Linked DNA regions of Homo sapiens: region 1 is linked to region 2. Evidence: fine-mapped expression QTL. A gene starts in region 2. The other region holds a variant in brackets. All regions are shown on one strand. Distances are between the middles of the regions.

Region 1 (2,931 bases), 22 kb before region 2:
AGCTGGGAGATGGGAGTTTTCAGTCCAGCTCCGGCACCCAGTTGCCCCGAGTCCTCTTCCTGTCTCAAGTGAGAGGGCTGATCTGGACTTGGCTGATCTGGGGTTGTTATGAAACTAGCTTTCTCAGGAGACGATGCATTCATTATAAAGAGAAGACACTCTACTAGGACTTTGTACATCATCTCATTTCATCTTCATGGCAACGCTGAGAGGGTTGATAAGAACCGTAAGAAAGAAAATGCAGGCTGGGCGCGGTGGCTCACGCCTGTAATCCCAGCACTCTGGGAGGCCGAGGCAGGCAAATCACGAGGTCAGGAGATTGAGACCATCCTGGCTAACACGGTGAAACCCTGTCTCTACTAAAAATACAAAAAATTAACCGGGCGTGGTGGCTGGCGCCTGTAGTCCCAGCTACTCGGGAGGCTGAGGCAGGAGAATGGCGTGAACCCAGGAGGCCAAGCTTGCGGTGAGCCGAGATCACGCCACTGCACTCCAGCCTGGGTGACAGAGCGAGACTCCATCTCAAAAAAAAAAAAAAAAAAAGAAAAGAAAAGAAAATGCAGACTGCAAAAACAAACTGCCCAAGGTCACACAGGTGATAAGTGCAGAGGTGGGGTTAGCCACTTTTTCACTTATGTTAAAAGCCAGGGTGGGTGGGAAGGGGGTTAGGCAGACAGAGGAAGGTAGAGGGTGGGGAGGGCTGTGGGGATCAGAGAAACTGTCTGGCAGCCACCACCTGTGGCTAGCGTAGGTGAGAGCTGGTCTCCCAAGAGCGGCATTGGCAGGCATGGCACGGGGATGGGCTCAGCCTTCAGGGCCACCAGTAGAAAACACTGGGGTGGCCCCTCTTCCTGCTGTTACCGCCTCCTCTTCCTCTGCTACCTTCCAGGTATCCCCTGCCTCTCCCCACTCACCCAAGGAGGCAGAGGCAGGCATCTAAAGAATGATACTATTGGGCCGGGCGCGGTGGCTCATGCCTGTAATCCTAGCACTTTGAGAGGCTGAGGCGGGCGGATTGCCTGAGCTCAGGAGTTCAAGACCAGCCTGGGCAACATGGTGAAACCCCATCTCTACTAAAATACAAAAGAAATTAGCTGGGCATGGCGGCGTGCGCCTGAAGTAGTAGCCCAACTACTCGGGAGGCTGAGGCAGGAGAATCGCTTGAACTTGGGAGGTGGAGGTTGCAGTGAGCCGAGATCAGGCCACTGCACTCCAGCACTCCAGCCTGGGCGACAGAGCGAGACTCTGTTTGAAAACAAACAGAAAAAAGATACTATTTCAAAAGCCCAGAGGGTAAGGCTGGCCAGGCCAATGCAGTGTGGAGTTTCTCTTCCCCCAGCTGCAGTGCAGTCCTTTGCGTGTTGAAAGCTGGTGACCTCACGCGGCCCAGAAGCTCTGACAGGCAGCATGAACCGCTGTGGTTCATAAAAATAGGAAACGGGGGCCAGGCATGGTGGCTCATGCCTGTAATTCCAGCACTTTGGGAGGCCGAGGTGGGTGGATCACCTGAGGTCAGGAATTCGAGACCAGCCTGGCCAACATGATTAAACCCCATCTCTACTAAAAATACAAAAATTTAGCCAGGCATGGTGGTGGGCGCCTGTAATCCCAGCTACTCGGAAGGCTGAGGCAGGAGAATCGCTTGAAAGCCAGGAGGTGGAGGTTACAGTGAGCCGAGATCACACCACTGCACTCTAGCCTGGGCAACAAGAGCGAGACTCCATCTTAAAAAAAAAAAAAAGGCAAAGGGGGTCATATGATGATGACCTTTGTCTGGTAAACAAAGAGCTTTCAAAACAGGCTGGGAAAAGGGGGGATAATTCAAGAAGTCTTCATTGGTAGATGACT[C/T]GGAACCATTTAGAGGACATGTTTATAAATTCCATTGTCCTATGTAATCATAAACTTCCACCCTCTTTCAATCCTAAAATACCTCAGCCCCACATCCTGCCTTACAGAATGGGCCTGTAACAGCCAAGCCTGTGTACAACACACACACAGACACGGACACACAGAGACACGCACGGCACCTGGATTGGGGGGCAAAAGCTGTGGACTAAGGGGGACAGATATTGGGAGATGGACCTAGCTAGGGTGAAGACATCAGCAAAGCCCAGAAGAGACTCAGGGCTGAGGGTTTGACAGAGGGGCCCGGGTGGCTGGGGAGCCCCTGGCCCCAGCAAATGGACCAACTTCTATTGGCCAAGTTCGAAGTCTGGCATTTAAATATCAGAAAAACAGATCTAGTTGTATGAAGTGATAAAAGGATGTATGACTGTAAATATGGTGTGATCCCATTTAAAATACACATGTGCTGAGAAGAAGTCCGGCAAGTTGTACACCAAAACGTCAACAGGGCTTATCTCTTGACGTTGATATAAAGGGCTTTTATTTTCTTTACAGTTTTCTGTATTTTCCAAATTTCTACATAAACATACACATAAAAGTCATAAAAATGTCCCTTAAAATGACACTCCCTCCAATGCAGGGAGTGAGGAGGTGTGTGCTGGGACGCCAGCAGGGTGGCTGCTGGCAGCTAATCCCTGTGCAGGTGCAGCCACTGCTACACTCCAGCGTCTGAGGCCCCTCTGCACTGGCAGTGTTAGAATGGCTGTCTGAGAGCCAAGGCTGTTCACCCGAGCAGAGTCATGGAGCTGGTACAGGCAGGAGCCAAGGTAAGCACTAGGCTGGTGTGTGCCCTCCAGGGGGCACCCTCCTTGAAGCAGGCCCTCCAAGGTACTCGCCCCCTGAGGCAGCCGATAACAGCCGGAAGCCTTCCCCTGGGGGGACCTGGCCATTTGTGGAGCAGGGAAAGGCTCCACTGCCAGTGGAAATGTGAGGCCAGCAGCCCAGGATGTCTGCTTCCCAGAGTCCGCGTGGGTCAGTGCTTGGGCCAGACAGGGGCTGCCTGCGGTGGCAGGACAGTGGCGGGCT
Region 2 (2,500 bases):
CCCAGCTATTTTTTTTTTGTAGAGACGAGGTTTTGCCATGTTGGCCAGGCTGGTCTTGAACTCCTGGGCTCAAGCGATGCGCCCACCTCAGCCTCCCAAAGTGCTGGGATTACAGGCTTGAGCCACCACGCCCAGCCCTTCTCAACTCTTCCAAAGAAGCTCATAAACCAGCCTAGGGAGAAGTGTATTTGAATTTGGCTTCCTACTCCAGAATGCTTCCTTTAACAGAAAGTAACTCCCCACCCCATCTCCAAGAAAAATCAATGCTCAGAAAGCCATTCTGTGCTTACCTGGGCTTTCCCTTCTGTCAGGGCCCATGTGGATCCCAGGGTTCCTCCCTCCCTGATGGGCTGCTCTCCCCCGACCCCCACGATGGGGCACTAGGAGGCCGCCCCCGAGCTCTGCCTCAGCCCTCAGCCCACCTGCTGCCGCTTAGCCAGGGGCAGGTTGGCAGAGCCCAGGGTGCGCACAGCTCCGATGATCCTGCGCAGCTGCGGGTCCGTGAAGTTCTGCCAGATCGGTTCATACAGCTCCTTGGCCTTCTGGCCCCAGGCCTCCGCAAACTCCTGGCTGAGCAGGGCTGCTTCCTCCTATTGGGCACCAGGAGGGCAGGGAGGGTGTAGGACCCTGCTTAGATGCAGGCCATAAAGGAGAAGCCACGGTGCTGGGGGAGGGGAGGAAGGCCAAGGGCTTCCAGAGCCCGGGCCCTGGGGAGATCCCTGCGGGAGACCTTAGTTTGCGGAAGCCGCGCTTCCTCCTTCTGGAGGGAATCTGCCTCATGGGAATGGTGGAGCAGAAATTGGGACCAGAAAAGAGGCCGGGCGAGTGGAGGGTGGATGGACAGTGCAGTGCGGTGACGGTGACAGCGACAGCGTCCGGAGGTGAGAAGGCAGCTGCCCGAGAGCGCGGGGGCCCCAGAGCCAAGCCCAGCACCTTCGGCGAAGGCGGGCGCGGCCTGGGAGCAGCCACCCTCATCCATCCAACTCGTGCATGCTGGGAGCGCAGGCCGTGCGCGCAGCCCGGCGCTCGGGCCCCGCGGCTGACTGTCGGGGCGAGGGTCCGGGGTCGGGGTGGGGTTCGGGTCGGGGGCGCCAGCCTGCCCGCCCCACAAGCCGGCCGCGTGCTGTGATTGGCCGCCGCGGCCCCGCCCCGCCCCCGCCCGGGCCCGGGCGCCCACCTGGCGCCTTGCATTCTCCGCGGTGATGTTGGTGTCGTGCGCCCAGCTGGCGGCCACGCTCTGGAACAGCACCTGTTCGGCGCTGGAGTTGTAGCTCTGCGCGAAGAGCTGCGCCCCGGCCTCGTCAGCAGAAAAGTTGCCGGGCTGCAGCCCGGGGTCCAACGCCAGGGCGGGCTGCGGCGGCAGCAGCAACAGCAGCGGCAGCGGCAGCAGCAGCCCCGGCCCCCGGCGGCCCGAGGCGGCCCCCATGACGCGGTGCGCGGTGCTCGGCTCTGCCCCTTCTCCTGCGCCGCGGCCGCCCTGCGGGTTATAAAACCCGACACACCCCCGCCCCCGCCCCGCCGCGCTTCCTCCTCCGCTCCAGAGTCCCCAGCGGCGCGGGCCGAGGTTCCTGGCCCGCCCCGGGCAGGGGCGCGGGCCGGGGAGGGGCCGAGGTGCAGCCCGGGGGTGGCGGGATGGGGCTGGGTCGGGCTCCCGCAGAGGAAGCTGGAGAAAGGGCCTCCTCTCTTTAGAAGATGGGGACCCGGCAGTTTGCCGGAACACCCGAGCCTGCCCACCGTGCGGCCGCGCAGCCTCGGCCGGGGCCTGGGAGCCTAGCGGCCTCCGGCTCGATCTTCCCAGCCCGACCCCCCGGAGCCTCCCGCCTCCGGAGTGACAAGGCCGGGGCCCCAGGAGCTGTCCGCAGGCGCCGCTCGTGCGGCGGGGATGGGGCTGATCGGGCCTGGCCGGCTTCTTCACCAGGCCATGGTCGAGGGGCGGGGACGTCGCCTGCCGGGGGTAGGGGTGTGGCGGGGGGGAGAGGAGGGAGGCGGGGACCTTAGGTGTCTTGCAGGCGCCTCCGGGAGGTGCTGGAGGGGCTCAGGGCGGCCGGCACACCTGGGGCTTGGGGCTGCGAGGGAGGGGGAGCCACAGAGCGCAGGAGCTTTGGAGCGCCTGCCCTCTTTCCCCCCGAGGACACAGGCTGCCAGTCGCTCAGCAGAAAACATCACACACGATCCCAACAGAGTCCTAGAACCCGAGGCTAGCAGGCTTTGAGAGCGACACAAAGCCTCAGAGATGAGAACAACCCCCTCATTTTACAGATGAAGAAATTGCCGCTCAGGTTGAGAGGCTTGCTCCAAGTCACCTCAGGTCTCCACACTCCCCTGTGTTTTCCTGTCTCATCCACGTGTCCCTCAAAGTGACAAGTGTGGGGGAGGGAGGACAGTCTTGTCCTATTGGCGCACAGGGCGGTTGTGGAGGCCACCTCGGCACCATGGCGTCTGCTGCCAGAGGGGGGAAGCCCCTTGACCCTGGCAGAGGCCCGGCGGCGCAGTGGGAGGT

The links. PIP is the estimated chance that this variant, and not a neighbour inherited with it, causes the effect.
Region 1: its variant is fine-mapped to the expression of ACE in lung (TOPMed, PIP above 0.99).

The regions. Positions count from the first base shown.
Region 1 is chr17:63,497,806-63,500,736 of GRCh38, reverse strand. It overlaps ACE (angiotensin I converting enzyme), which reads right to left. Exons shown (of 25, transcript NM_000789.4): 25 at 2,364-2,931. Among named protein-coding and RNA genes, the nearest start is that of ACE, 22 kb to the right of the region's middle. The variant C/T (reference allele first, on the strand shown) is at 1,849.
Region 2 is chr17:63,476,021-63,478,520 of GRCh38, reverse strand. ACE (angiotensin I converting enzyme) reads right to left here and starts at 1,460. Exons shown (of 25, transcript NM_000789.4): 1 at 1,178-1,460; 2 at 423-590. The coding sequence starts at 1,426. RefSeq lists silencers at 951-1,010, 1,111-1,200.